Linked DNA regions of Homo sapiens: regions 1 and 3 are each linked to region 2. Evidence: fine-mapped expression QTL. A gene starts in region 2. Each other region holds a variant in brackets. All regions are shown on one strand. Distances are between the middles of the regions.

Evidence for each region. PIP is the estimated chance that this variant, and not a neighbour inherited with it, causes the effect. A credible set is the group of variants that fine-mapping cannot tell apart.
Region 1: its variant is the best candidate, but not a certain one, in a credible set for the expression of INSM2 in lung (TOPMed, PIP 0.72).
Region 3: its variant is the best candidate, but not a certain one, in a credible set for the expression of INSM2 in prefrontal cortex (CommonMind, PIP 0.75).

What each region holds. Positions count from the first base shown.
Region 1 is chr14:35,425,557-35,430,783 of GRCh38, reverse strand. It overlaps the pseudogene DNAJC8P1. Among named protein-coding and RNA genes, the nearest start is that of NFKBIA, 23 kb to the right of the region's middle. The variant A/T (reference allele first, on the strand shown) is at 3,133.
Region 2 is chr14:35,532,144-35,537,370 of GRCh38, reverse strand. INSM2 (INSM transcriptional repressor 2) reads right to left here and starts at 3,207. Exons shown (of 1, transcript NM_032594.4): 1 at 317-3,207. The coding sequence starts at 3,118. The coding sequence ends at 1,418. RefSeq lists enhancers at 1,118-1,940, 2,111-2,260, 1,941-2,764, 2,765-3,588, 3,589-4,413 and silencers at 3,221-3,590, 3,691-3,770.
Region 3 is chr14:35,471,263-35,476,489 of GRCh38, reverse strand. LOC107984681 (a long non-coding RNA gene) reads right to left here and starts at 1,482. Exons shown (of 2, transcript XR_001750713.2): 1 at 1,361-1,482. LOC105370450 (a long non-coding RNA gene) reads left to right here. Exons shown (of 3, transcript XR_943749.3): 3 at 65-568. The variant AAGG/G (reference allele first, on the strand shown) is at 2,049.

The DNA of each region.
Region 1 (5,227 bases), 110 kb after region 2:
ACTCTGATCGATATTAAATTGTATTCAAAACGAAACAGACTAAAAAGCAAATACTACTCTATGTTGAGGTGGAAGTGGGAGGAAAGAATGAGTCCTTCGAAGCAGGAAGGGAGATAGCAGGGGGAAGGTTCTGTGCCTGTGACCCCGGGTGGTCACTCATGCTGCTCCATTTTTACTTTCGGTGGTCTCAGGAAGGTCCGATTTTTCTTCTCTTTCTTCCCCTTTGTATTGACTTGGAAGTTTCGCCAGCTGTCCACACGACCATCTCGACCTTCCTCAAAGTTTTTCTGCCACTCTCTTTCTCGTTTGGCTTTTTCTTGAGCTTCAATCTCTTCTTCCCTTTGCCGTTTCCTTTCATGCATCTCTTTGGCTTCTCTCTCTTTCCTTTTAATTTCCAGCTGAGCAAAGAGTTTCATTTTCTGTTTATATACAGCTTGTTTGAACAGCTCAGGATCATCCTCCTCTACAATCGTAGGTTTTCCTTCCTTCTTTGATTGTTTTTTTTTTTTCTCTCTTTCACAGTGTGTTCCACGTATTCTTTTCCTGCCTAAATTACATCCAGGACCCTCTTCTTTTGCTCCTGATCAGTAGCAACTTGTAAGCTTTGTCCACAGTTTCAAAAGCCTTTTGTGCTCTGTCAGCATCATCTTCATTTTTGTCAGGATGCACCAAGATGGATAACTGCCGAAACCTCTTTTTTATTTCTTCATCTGTAACTTCAGGATCTATCTGAAGAAACTCAAATGGGTTCAAATTGAAGTAAGAGGAACCAGGACGGGTCAGTCTTTCAATGTGGTTTTTGGATGTTAGAACCAAGTCTCCCTTCTCTATTTGTTTCCCCTGAAGACAAGGCCCGGGAGAACAAGCACCAGGCAGTCCCAGGAAAACATTCTTGGTGTCACTGTCAGGGTTGGAATGAATATGAGGTATGCTGTATGCCATCTTTATTCCTCACTGTAGGAGGTCATAAATGCTTCCTCTGTGCCGCCTCCGCCGCCCAAAGTCCCGCTCTCTCCTGAAGCCGCCATTTCCCCACAACTTTTTTAAAAAGTTAAAATCTATGGGCAGAAACTATATTTAAGAGTGTAAATTGGCCGGGCGCAGTGGCTCACGCCTGTAATCCCAGCACTTTGGGAGGCCGAGGCGGGCGGATCACAAGGTCAGGAGATCGAGACCAACCTGGCTAACACAGTGAAATCCCGTCTCTACTAAAATACAAAAAAATTAGCCGGGCGTAGTGGCGGGCGCCTGTAGTCCCAGCTACTTGGAAGGCTGAGGCAGGAGAATGGCGTGAACCCGGGAGGCGGAGGCTGCACTGAGCTGAGATTGTACCACGGCACCCCAGCTTGGGCAACAGAGTGAGACTTCATCTCAAAAAAAATAAAATAAAGTAAAACAAAATGTCTTCAAGGGCTGCCTGTATGGACAGATGAGATGTTACTTCAGCTTAATAAATTAATATTCAATGTATTAAAGTAACAAAAACATTACTTAAGCTTTTTTAAAAATAGAGTGTAAATTAGCACAATCACTTTAAAGACAATTTGTCTAAATCTCATAAATTTGTAAATACACATATCCTATAACCCAGCAATTCTATAAAATTATAGCTAGAACAGTAATTCTCAAACTTTAGTGTGCGTCAGAATCACTGGAGAACTTATTAAAGTAGTTTGGTAGGCCCCACCCCACCCCACCCCCGTTTCTGATTCAGTAAGCATGGGTTAAAGCCCAAAAATTTACATTTCTAACAAATCCCAGGTCATACTGATGCTGCTGGTTCATGCATCACACTTTGAGTATCACTGCCCTGAAGAAACCATCATGGATGTGCCTAAGGGGACACATACAGAAAATATTCACCATAGTATTGTCTATCACAAGTAAGGAAATGGATGAATAAATGTAGAATATAGCAATGAAGTTACGTGAAGGAACAACATGAATCCATATGAGTAAATCTCAAATCATAATGGTGAATGGAAAAGTAATTTGCAAAAGGATACATTTAAGATACCATTTATGTAAGACTTAATAGTATTAATATCCATTATTTACAGATACATTCATATGTACCAAAAGTATGAAAATATAGGAAGAATACATATTGGCAAAGGAGTCAGGGAATTGAGATTGCAAAGAGCTTCAAAAGGGGCTTCAATTGTATCTATAACATTGTGTTTTGTTAAAACTGACCTAAAGCTCACCTCTTTCCAATGCCCTGCCCTACCCTCCTACCCTGGAAAAGGTAGTCAGTAGAAAAGTAGACATCCTGTCTAGAGAAAAGCTGCAGAGGATGGTAGAATGGGAACATCCCTCTCTGCACAAAAATAATGCAGGAATAAAGATGATCTATTTCACTATTTTTTTTCCTGATCTTCCAAGAAAACTTGAACATTATTATCTGCCTATATTGTCAAAAGAAAAGAAAAAGGATAAGGATAGTGTTTTGCTTTTGTTTTGTTTTGCTTTGTTTGGGACAGGGTCTTGCTCTGTTGCCCAGGCTGGAGTGAAGTGGCATGACCATGGCTCACTGCAGCCATAGTGCCTTTCTTTAGAGAACGGATACATTTTACCATCATAGTGCATGAGAGGCACAGTAGGAGTCACAAAATCATCAATAATAACACTAACTGACATTTGGATAGTACCCCATTTTCAAGCTGTTTCTCTGTAGAACACAGAAAGACACAGTTATATAAAGTAAAAGAAATGCAGCATACCCTGATAATGACTTGGTCCCTGACCCCCAAAACCAAAAATTTCCTTCTTCCTATGAATGTATATAACAAATTATCTTGAAATTGACTGTGCTAATTTACACTCCTAAATATCATTTCAAAGTCTTGGCCGGGCACATTGGCTCAAGCCTGTAATCCCCACACTTTAGGAGGCCAAGCCAGGCAGATCACCTGAGGTCAGGAGTTTGAGACCAGCTTGGCCAACACAATGAAACCCCGTCTCTACTAAAAATACAAAATTAGCTGGGCATGGTGGCACATGCCTATAATCCCACCTACTCACTCAGGAGGCTGAGGCAGGAGAATCGCTTGAACCCGGGAGGCGGAGGTTGCAGTGACTGCGCCATTATGCTCCAGCCTGGGCAATAAGAGCAAAACTCCATCTCAAAAA[A/T]AAAAAAAGCACCAAAGTCTACAGCTTAACTCTTTTTTTAGGTAACTTGTCATAGAGATGCTTTGCATCTTAATGTACTTTAATATTTGTCCTTACATTTTGTGCATTTGGTCTTGTTTATGTTCAGATGTCATAATTTCCTATGTTGTCTTCCAACAACTTCCTCTGAACCAAGTCTTGGCTCAATTCTTTCCTTCCTATGATCTCAGCTCCCCAGAAACTTCTAAAACTATCACCTCCACACAGAGGCCTTCCTGACTATATGTTCCAAAATAGCATCTCCAGTCTCTCTCCAGTTCCTTTCCCTGTTTTACACTTGTATATAGTATTTATCACTCTCTGACGTTCCCTTACATATTACCTTGTTTATTGTCTTTCACTCTATCTAGAATATAAGCTTCATAACACAGAGACTTGTTCCTGGGTGGGTCTAGGGTCAACAACAATGCATGGCCAATAGTAGGAGCCCAATAAATATTTGCTAGATGAATGAATGAATCTGCCTTTCTGTCTCTGTTCTTCTTTCTTCCTATTAATATTCTCTCCACTAATCGTGTACATCCTTCAGTGGCTGGTGCACTGCCAATGTACCAAGATATTTCAGTCTTTTGTTTTTAGTTCAATCCCACATTTCCACTGTATAAAAGGCTGCCCCTATGTCTCACACTTTCCGTTAACAGCATTTTATTTTCTACAAAGTAAAAAACTCAAAATTTGGTTCCCTTTGCTGCCAACTCTTACCACATATTCTCCCCAAATTTTTCAGCCTTTTGTCACTGTTTATCATTCTTAATATAACTCAGAATAACCCACCTTAAGTTTGAAGTGAGCATTGCCATTTACAAAGTATTTTACCACCAATGATCTTAACTCCTAAAACCTTACAAAACTGGGTATTTATCTAAAGAAATGAAGCTTATGGGCTGGGCACAGTGGCTCACGCCTGTAATCTCAGCACTTTGGGAGGCTGAGGTGGGTGGATCACAAGGTCAGGAGTTCAAGATCAGCCTGACCAAAATGGTGAAACCCCATCTCTACTAAAAATACAAAAAAATTAGCTGGGCGTGGTGGTGGGCACCTGTAATCCCAGCTACTCAGCAGGCTGAGGCAGAGAATTGCTTGAACCTGGGAGGGGGAGGTTGCAGTGAGCTGAGATGGCACCACTACACTCCAGCCTGGGTGACAGAGCAAAACTCAGTCTCAAAAAAAAAAAAAAAAAAGAAAGAAATGAAATGAAATGAAGCTTATATTCACACAAAAACCTGTACATGAATGTTTATAGCAGTTTCATTTGTAAGAGCCCAAAACTGTAAACAAATATTCTTCAACAGGTGAATGGATAAACTGGTACCCCCATATAATGGTGCACTACTCATTAATAAGAAGGAACAAACTATTAACACATATAGCAACGTGGATAGATTTCAAAGGCATTACACTGAGTGAATTGGCTTGAAAAAAAGGCAATCTCAAAAGTTGAAATATAAATCCATTTATGTAACATTCTCAAAATGACAAAATTATAATGATGGCGAGCAGATCAGTCAGTGCCAGGGCTTAGGGACAGGGGACAGTGTGACTGTGAGGGGTAATACAAGGAGTTTCTTTGTGGTGACAGCACAATTCTGTATCCTGATCATGGTAATGGTTACACAACCCTATACATATGAAAAAATTTCATAGAACTTGTATACTGAAAAAAAAAGTATGTGTAAGAACTGTGAAATCTGAATAAGATCTGTAGTTATGGTTAACATTGTACCAGCATCAGTTTGCTGGTTTTGATAATATTAGCACTGAAGAAAGATGAGTGAAGGACATAGGGGAACTCTCTATACTATTTTGCAACTTCTTATGAACATAAATTTTTTTAAAATAAAAAATTTAAATGATGTATAATTATAGGAATTATATATAGAATGTGAAAACTGACACTTTTAATTAGAACTATCAAGTAAAAAATTTACATTGCGGAGATTCTCAATTGCAAACATTAGCACCATTTTCTTTCTTTTTTTTTTTTGAGATGGAGTCTTACTCTGTTGCCCAGGCTGGAGTGCAGTGGCACAATCTCATCTCACTGCTGCCTCTGCCT
Region 2 (5,227 bases):
TATATATATATATATATTTAAAATATGTTTTCGGTTGACATTTCTTGGGGGGGATGTCTTTTTTAGATTCAAAGACTAGTGCATATTCCTTGCTTTTTGCAGCTCAGTCTTTGCAGCCATACTTCAAAGGAAAATTTTTCATTGCATTCCTGCACCATCACATTCATTTGCAAAATATTTCCGTCTTTGTATTCTGTCCAAATGGGTCACTAACATTCTAAAACAGGATACCGACATTGGGGAGATAAGAAATGTGGCTTTGAAAATAGGCTGTGTTCAACAGGATTCTTAAGACAAACACAGAACACAACAAAAGCACAGTCTATGTACATTTATTTGGTGGTAAGCATCTTACAAATACGGGCTTTCTGTCAGGCAGTGCTCAGCCAATGTCCCAAACTGGCTAGTAGGGAATTAGTACACAATGTACACTGAAATGGTTTTTTAAAAAAATCAAAAACAAGTTGCCGCTGAAAAGAAAATACTGAATATTGAGCAAATTGCCATTCAGTTCCTTAGTGGATTACAGGTGTTAACATCTTCCTTAAGCTGTACATATTTTCATAATGAATACACAGTATGACATTTACAGCAGAAGCATTAAACAATTTGGGTGAAACCCCATTAAAACAGTCAAACTTGAGGAAACGACTTCTGTATTTCCAAAAAGCCATTTAAAGAAAGGTTTGAAGTAGCTCTTCCTGAATACTGCCCACAAAATAGCTGAGGGTGAGAATTTTAGGGGGTGTCTCAACTCCAGTAAAGTAGCATCCTCCCCACCTCCAAACACCAACTTAAGAATGGACATGTACATATAATTGGGCAAAGGAAAGTTTACAGGGGAGATCCCCATGCACCCCAAAAGCAGCAAAAATCCTCTTACATTTTCTGCCAGGTCTTGAATCTCCTTAAGTTTGACACCAATCACATAACTTTTAATTCACAGAATATACAGTGCAAAATATCTGACCCTATTGAGACAGAAGCTGTATAGGCGCCTGTGATGACAAGACAAAAAAAACATTGGCTACCAAAGGGTAGCCAGAATCCTTTGTGGACATTGAGACATGCACGCATTCACCGCGACTTTCCATAGGAATTACAAATCATATAGGATTCGTTAGGGTCTCCAGAGTTTTAAGGGGAAAAATCCTATTTTAGTGGGGAAAGTGAGAAGGATTTAAAGCTGACAGTCTTTGATCTCAAGGTTTATACCATATACATACCTGCTCTAGAGAGGGATATTACATTTCACTGTCCGCTCCTCTGGTGGAACATTGACTACAGGGAGAATTTTAGGGGATTAAAACATAGGAAGGAATGAAAGTAAACTTGCAAGTTGAAGAAAGCCCCACAGAAATTCCCATGATCTGTTTCCTCTAAGGCCAACCTCGAAATCATCCTGGTCTCTCGTCCCTCAGCAGCCAGGCCGCAGTGGCATCTGCAGCAGCAGCACTTGCCGGCTTTCTGAGGGGTGGCACTTATTGATGTGCCGGGTCAGCCCTGGAGAGCTAAAAAAAGTGGACGGGCAGTGCTTGCACGAGAAAATTTGCTGGGCACTCCCGTCAGATGGCCCGCTAGGGCCCGACGTTTCGGGAGGAGCCCCCGCCAGAGCGGGCAGGAGCAGCTCCTCGCGGACAGCATGCCACAGCCGGTGCTTCTCCCTGATATCTGCTGTAGGGAAGTGCGCTCCGCACAATGGGCAAGCGAAGGCAAGTGGGGCACCGCGTTCGGAGCCAAAGCCCGGCGCTAGCGCACGGGCCGAGCCCGCCTCGTGAGTGCTCAGGTGCTTGCGCAGATAGGCTTGGCGACGAAACTTTTTGTGGCAATATGGGCACACGAAAATCTCGGATCCCCTGCCACCACTGGTACTGCCCGGCACAGGTACCCGGCGCCCCAACACCCCCTCCGTGTAGGGGCCCTGAGGCAGCGGTGGCTCTGGATGCGTCAGCACCTGGAGGCCCTGCCTCGGGGCGCTGTCCGGGTGCTGATCCGCCCCGGAGCTGTCCCTGGCCTGCGGGTGCTGATCCGCAGTCCGCTCTATTCGGCTGTTCTCCTTTCCCTCCGCCAGAAAAGATGCAATGGCCCCGGAGTCCCGGGAGGACGAAGACGACGAAGAAGGCGGCTTCCCGTCGGCGGAGGAGACTGTGGCGGCGTTTGCAGCCGCAGGACGCGGCTTATGCCAGCGGCGATGGGAGGCCAGGTTCGCAGGACAGCTGAACACCTTGTCGCACTCAGGGCAGCGGTACTCTACGCGCACGATGCGGGAGCAGCGGTGCTGGGCCAGCGCGAAGGGGTCTGCGTACTGCTCCTTGCACAGCTGGCAGATGAACTCCCCCAGTGGCGTGCGGCTGCCCCCCAAGCCCCGGGACGGCGCTCCGGGCTCCTCCTCCTTGATCTTCAGGCCCAGGACAGGGGATGTGGTCACCTCATCGGCAAAGCTCAACTTCCTCATGGCCTTTGGCTTCTTGATTCCCGCGGCCGCGGGTCCAGACGCGCAGTCCGTGGGTGCCTTGCCGCGGCGCTCGCCGCCGGCCGCCCGCTTCAGACTCTGAAGGGCGGCCGAGAGGGGCGCAGGGTCCGGCTGAAGCGCGGGCTCTGGGAACGGCGCCCGAAGCGGCAGCAGAAACTGCTCCCCCGGGGTCGGTGCGGCTGCTGGCGCCACGGAGCAGGAGAAAGCGGCCACGGCGGCGGCGCCCCCGGGGAAAGACTCGGCGGAGACGGGCGAGCTGAGGCAGCGCTCCAGGAACGCCCGACGCAGCTCTGCGCCTGCCGGCTTCGCTGGACTGGGGCTGGGGCTGGGGCTGGGCCCGGGACCTTCCCTGCCACCCGCCCGCCACTCCGCGCCTTCCCGCCCGCCCGTCCCCGGGCTCACCCCAGCCGCCCGACATGGCGACCCCGACTGTTCCCGGGCCGCCTCCGCCGTCAACCCCTTTCCTGGTTCCTCTCGGGTGGGGGGTGTCGCCCGCTCCGCGCCGGGCAAGGAGGCGCTGGGAGCCTCCTCCAAGAAGGGCGGCGCCCCCTGGGGCCCCAGCAGAGGGAAGACACGCTCCGCAAGGCGAACTCGGTACAAGCCGCCTGTCCGTTTAGTTCGCTTCACCAGGAATCCCCTTGGCATGGTGGAGTCGAGAGCGCTCTGGGACAAGAGGAAAGGGGGCGCCACGGGGACTGAGAGCCGGCCAGCAGATGAACTAGAAGAGCTTCGCCGCGGCTGTCATGCCGGGGCTATCTTTATAGCTGAGACGCGGGCCGGGGTCCCGCCGGGCCTCCCCGGGCTGGCCCGGCCAATCAGGAGTGGGAGCGGGCGCCGGGGGCGGGGCTTTCTCCCGTGCCGATTCACTGGAGTAGACGAATCTGGCGGCGGCGGCGGCGCACGCCCAGCCCCGCCTCACAGCGCCGCGAACCTGCCCCTGTGGCCGGCTGGGTCCGCCTCCCCCTGCAGCCTCCCGGGCGAAGACGCCAGAAGGTAAGGTCCAGAGTGTGAGGGAGCTCGACACTCCCCGCCTTGGCTGCCTCCGCGGAGCGTCCCACTGGGGAGCCGGGCGAAAAGGCCACCTCACGACGCCCTCCGCTCGGGCCGGGACCCGGCTGCCCCCAACGCGAGGGCGTCTGGCTGAAAAGCTCCCGCTCTGCGCCGGACGGCCGAGCGGAAGGGGCGGTGGGCAGAAGGTGCGGCGGAGACCACGGGGTGGGTGTCCGGGAGGGAACCGGTGCACGTCCTCTGCGGGTATTGAGCTGATGAGAAGTGCGACCGAGCGGCCGGACAGCTGACTGCACCGCCCTGTGGCTGCTGTCGGCGGCGGGAGCACGTCCGCCCGCCGGTATCGATCGGGCCCGCGCGCGGCGGCGACACTCGAGAGTTCATCTCCGCAGAAGGGCTCTCAGCGCGGGAGAGCGTGCCTGCCCGCCGCCAGCCTCCGAGTCGGGACGCCCGAGCGCGGCTGGGTCCTGGGCGTCTGCGCTCTTAAGTGCTTCTCGATAGGAGCAGGAGTAGGGAGAGGAAAGGAGGATCTCATTTTCCACTGTCCTCGCATAAAGTGGTTTCTCTGTTCACACTTTCCACTTGTACTACCCAGAGTATGACTTAATTCCTAACCGGCCTGTTTAGCATGGAGTAGATTGAGTGAGAAATGCCGGCGGAATCAGCATTACAGCTGCTTCCCCGTACACCACAAGTGATACTTTGCAAAAGGTGTGCTGTAGAGCAAACTCAACAGATTTTCATCTGGCACCCTGCAATGCTCCCACCACTATTTTGAGAACTAGAAGAGGTTTGAAAGTGTTTAGTAGTAATTGAACTAGGCAACAATTAGACCATCTATGACAGATATAAAGTGCCAAGATCCATAATATAGGTAAATAAAGTGTGAGAACAGGAAGGGGAAAGACTATGTGCACAAGTCTCCTTACTAAACCAAATTGGAGAAAAAGACTGACAGAGGTGTTTTAAAAGTACACGATAGCATAACAGATGTAGTCATCAATAAAACACATTGTCTTTCTTCAGTGAAGTATTTTTACAGGGAGAACATTATTTTGAGAAAGATTTGGAAGTAATTATATATTAATCATTGACTATGTTATAGGCATTCTGCTTAAGTAATCTCTAATCTTCATACACACGCACACAACATGTACACACACAAACCAAAAAGGAGATATTATTTCTCTCTTTTTTCAATGTGGTGATTGAGCCATTTAGTTAGATAATGGGTAAAAGCCAAGCAGAGCTCAGATTCAAACTTGTTCTGGCTAATTCCAAAGCCCAGACTCTTTCCACTACACCAATGGCTTCAAACTATTTTTTTCCTTAATCACATCCCACAATAATAAATGTGTTCTATAGTATATACACACATGTAACTGAAACAAAAGTCTCACAAAATAATACTGTGGGTCCTAATCTATTTGTAAATTATGAAATCATACATTGAAATGTTTGCAGTGCATTCTCATATTTTTCATTGTATTGTATTTTGTTTCTTAAAAATAGCAGTCATAGAAAATACATTGATTTCATAATTTACAAATGGATTAGGACCCACAGTTTGAAAAACACTCATTATATTGTCTCATTAAATAGCATGAAATGATACAAAATTAAATAAACCTGATACTGCATAATCACAATATCTGAACCACTGTTTAAAATATTTGAGTCCTTTAGCAGTGTTGGTAAACTTAGTTTCCCAAATTGGTCATTTCTGACATGTCAGCTTATATGTGA
Region 3 (5,227 bases), 61 kb after region 2:
TTAAACCTGGCTGCCAGAGGAATGTAAATAGAAGACTGTCTTTTTCTATCTTGTTATCCTCCAGGAGAATTAACTTTTCCAACCAGAAATCAACATCCTGAAGGGCCAGGATCAGAGGCCATCAAAGGTTTATTACCAGCCAGATTATTATCAAGGAGCAGAGACAATAATTATTACATTGTTGACAAACAGATACATTTTTGCTTTCTGGTCCCTTCATGTTGTACTCAGGATTAGTATTTTTAGGAAGATTAGAGAATACTTTGCAGAATACCTTAAGTGATAAAAAGTCACTAGGGAGTATATTTGCAGCTCAGCATGTGGGACCAAAGAAGTTCAGCTCATTGCCTGATCTAAAAATAATCATCCTTGATGTAGAATCCTGTTAGGTTCAGAAATGTAACATATAAGCTAAAATATTTCTACCTATCTCAGAAGTCCCAATTATACAAATTTATATCTGCAGATCTCATAGTCTAAAATCTGATGCATCTCTCTCCAGCTCTCTCCATGTACTTTGAATAAAGAATATATATATTCTCTGAATCTCTAGATCTCCTTCTCAAAATCTAATCACAACAAATTAGCTGTTTCTTTTAGCTTCCCATCAAGAATGGCTTGGCACAGTGGCTCATGCCCATAAGCCCAGCACTTTGAGAGGCTGAGACAGGAGGATCAATTGAGGTCAGGAGTTCAAGACCAGCCTGGACAACAGAGCAAGACTCTATCTCTACAAATTTTTTTTTTAAATTAGCCAGGAGTAGTGGTCCTACTTGGGAGGCTGAGGCAGGAGGATCACTTGGGCCTAGGAGTTAAAGGTTACAGTGAGCTATGATCTCCCCACTGCACTCCAGCCCAGGTGACAGGGTGAAACTCTGTCTCTAAAAAAAAAAAATTTTAATAAAAAAAGCTGGGCACGGTGGCTCACGCCTGTAATCCAAGCACTTTGGGAGGCTGAGGCGGGTGGATCACCTGAGGTCAGAAGTTCAAGACCAGCCTGGTCAACATGGTGAAACCCCATCTCTACTAAATATGCAAAAATTAGCCAGGCATGGTGGCGGGCACCTGTAATCTCAGCTACTCGGAAGGCTGAGGTAGGAGAATCTCTTGAACCCAGGAGAGAGAGGTTGCAGTGAGCCAAGATCGCACCATTGCACTCCAGCCTGGGCAACAAGAGCGAAACTTCATCTCAAAAAAAAAAGAGTCTGGGTGCAGTGGCTCACGCCTGTAATCCCAGCACTTTGGGAGGGTGAGGTGGGCGGGTCACCTGAGATCAGGAGTTTGAGACCAGCCTGGCCAACATGGTGAAACCCTGTCTCTAGTAAAAATACAAAAATTAGCCAGGCATGGTGGTACGCACCTGTAATCCCAGCTACTCGGGAGGCTGAGGCAGAAGAATTGCTTGAACCTGGGAGATGGCGGTTTCAGTGAGCCAAGATCTTGCCACTGCACTTCAGCCTGGGTGATGGAGCAAGACTGCATCTCAAAAAAAAAAGAAAAAAAAAAAAAGAATGGTTTGCTTCTAATTTCATAAAAGTTTTTCTTTGCCTTTTGATAACAACTATAATATTTCATGAATAAATGTATTTTTATTACTAACTTGGGGAAAAATCTTGGAAAATCTTGTTCATATAAATTGGGGTTAATGTTTCAGGAAAAAAAATAGAATCTTAAATTTTTCAAACTGGAAAAGACCTTAAAAGATTCTCTATCAAAACCCCATTCCACCCCCACCCCACCAACTACCTTTTTTTTTTAACTATTTGAGGCCAAATAAATTAGCTTCTCAAATTCATGAAAGGCATAAAGTTAGAGATTTTAATGCTGTTCTTAGAAACTACAGCCTAATCTTTGCCCTTTTGCCAAAAGAAGAAGGAGGAGGAGGAGGGGGAAGGAGAAGGAGGGAAGAGGAGGTAAGAGGAAGAAGAGGAAGGAAGAGGAAGAAGAGGAAAAGGAGGAAGAGGAGGAAGAAGAAGAAGAGGAGGAAGAGGAAGAAGGAGAAGGAGAAGAAGAAAGAAGAATGAGGAGGAGGAGGAAGAAGAAAGAAG[AAGG/G]AGGAGGAGGAGGAAGAAGAAGAAGAAAGAAGAAGAAGAAGAAGAAGAAGAAACTACTACACTACTGCTACTACTGCCGCTACCACCACATTTTTTCTGTCTGAATTTGAAAAGACATTTAAAAGTCAATTATATTTTTTGGTTCAACTACTTGATACCAAAAGAATTTGGTCATATGTCTTAACAGCACACATATATATATCTTAAAGAGTGTGTGTGTGTGAATCTATATCTACATATAGCACTTTGTGGCCACATTGAAACACTTATCAAACTACATTACAGCTATTTGTGAATTGTCTATTCACCTGACACAATAGTAGCACCTGGAAATTAGAAACCATATGTTTTTTCCTTACCTTGTGCATTTTTCCACTTTTGAAACTATGAACTATTTCAAAATATTCTCAAAAATAGAGAATAAAAAATAAAAACATAGAGAATAATGTAACAAAGACTTATCATCCAGCATTACCAAATCTTAACATTTTGTTACATTTATTGCATTTTTTAAAAATGAAACACTAGAAATACTGTTGAAACCTTCCAAATTCATTTTCTTCCTTCCCTTCTCAGAGATAATCACTACTATCCAGGATTTGGTGTTATGTCATTCCCATGCATGTTTTTACAGTCTTATCACATATGTATGTATCCATATATTAATATATATGCATTTTATTGTTTTGCATATGCTTTAAAACTATTTTAGTAGTGGCATACCCTGAATATTCTTAAATTTGCTAAATTTTCTTAACTTACTCTGAGCTTTAAGGCTTATCCATGTTGGTAATAATCATTCATGTATTCATTCAAACTGCTATATAGCATTCTATAGTATGAACACATCCCTGGTGAATATGTAGGTAGTTTTCATTTTTCACTATTATAAACAATGCTGTAATGAATATTCTTCTAGATATCTCTGTGCACATGTGCAAGGGTTTCTTTGGGATATTGTTGAAGAAGTAGAATTGCTATACATACTGATAAATTGAAAATGAATTACTTGATATTGACAAATTGCATTCTAAAATGGTTGTCTGATTTTTACTCCCACTCATATTTAAGTCCCCATGTGATCTAGTCCATTTTTTAAATTTTGGCTAATCCGATGGGCGAGGATGACATCTTATTCTTTTGACTTAAATTGTCCTGATTATTAGTTATATTGAACATCTATTCATATGTTCATGGACCCTATTGGATTTCCTCTTCTGTCAACTGCCTGTTTTTATTCTTCACCAATTTCTCTCTAAGGTTGATCAGTAGTCTTTCTCTATATACTGTGCATATACTAATTATTTGTTGGTTGTATACATTGCAAATATTTTCTCCCAGTGAGACCTTGTCCTTTTCATTTCCACCAACCAGTAAACTACCTAGAACCTAAAATATAGAAAAGAGTGCAGAAGAAAAAAATTTTTTGAGACGGGTTTTTTGTTTTTTGTTTGTTTTTGTCGCCCAGACTGGAGCCCTGTGGCATGATCACAGCTCACTGCAGCCTCAATCCCCCAGGCTCAAGTGATCCTCCCACCTCAGCCTCTTGGGTAGCTGGGACTACAGGTGCACACCACAACAACACCTGGCTAATTTTTTGAAATTTTTGTAGAGAGGGGTTTCACCATGTTGCCCAGGCTGCTCTTGAATTCCTGAGCTCAAGCAGTCTACCTGCCTCGGCTTCCCAAAGTGTTGGGATTGCAGGTGTGAGCCACCATGCACGGCCAAAAATTTTTAAAGATACAAAGGGAGAGGGAGAAAAAGGGAAAGAGCAATTTCACACATCATTCTCACCAAGGTATAGCCATTTGACGAAGTTTTTATGGTAGACTTGACAGGACTAATCATCAAATTATTTTCATTGAAAACATCTGTTTTGAATTTATTTATTGATTTATTGATGTATTAAATTTTTTACCATCATAACATCAGGGCATTCTGTGTTGCTAGTGGTGGTACTGACGATGATGCTGGCTTTTTATTTTATACATTGTTATTTTGGTCCATCTGAGCAACTATTTTTTAACCAAAAGAAGTTATTTTTTTTTCTTTTGCCCACTTTTTTGGCAAGTCACTATAGTTGAAAAAGCCTCATATCTAAGTTAATAAATGTTATAAGTTAATAAATGTTACCTTATGATCTCTTAAGACTGTTCTATTGCCGTTTTTTCTTTATCCTCATCCCCAACTTCTGTTCAATAGAAGGCACAATTAATTATATAAAAGATACATAGAGTCTGCATTTGCTTTCCTTAGGCATAGGAATTACACTGGCTATTTCCATACAGGCAGTATTCTCCTAGACCTTCTCTATAGATGCCAATTAGAAGATTAGCGTCTTTTCTCTCTCCCTCTTTGCTATTAAATAGTCACACAAAAGCTGAGCTGACAAATTACTCCGTCCATGGTGCTCGACAAAGACAGACAATAGATCATCATCATTTACTATACTTGAATCCTATTAATCACAGATTAATGAGAACATGTCTAGTGGGGAAGAAATTACCAGAATGTGGGCCTATTGGCTTGTTACTCATGTAACATCTGCTCAGGCTTTACCTTTAGTGTCATGTCATCTTTTATCACATTGAAATAATGTTTGCTCCAGAAACATAATTAAGATAATGGAGCAAATTCAGAGCCCTTCCCTTAATAATTAAAGAACCACGGTTGTATTTCTTAGTTCAGTGGCTTTTAAAAAAAACTAATTTCCCTCTGTTCTTGATTATTTCCTTTTTCTTTTGCTCATAATGAACTATCAAATCTTGGGGCTTTTTTTTCTCTTTGTAAACTATGATTAATCCTCATACCCAAAACTAGGACAAAGTCAGAGTTTGAGTTCCTTTTTCTATTGAGATAAAATTCATATGATATGAAATTCACCATTGTAACCACATTAAAATGCACAATTAAGTGGGATTCCTTTTACAATTTGAAACATCCTAAACTCAGATTAATACTTAGAATATCATATACACTTTGTAAGGATCATCAAGTACTATATTTATTTTCCTTAACCTTCATCTACAATGTACTGTTTTATTTTTATATAATCAAATACTTTTATTTTTAAAATCTGGGGTTTTACCAATGTTTTAGTTTTTTATACTTAAGCTAATTACCTGCTTTACTTTAAAGCACAGAAGTAGAAATTTGGGTTCAAATATTTAATATTC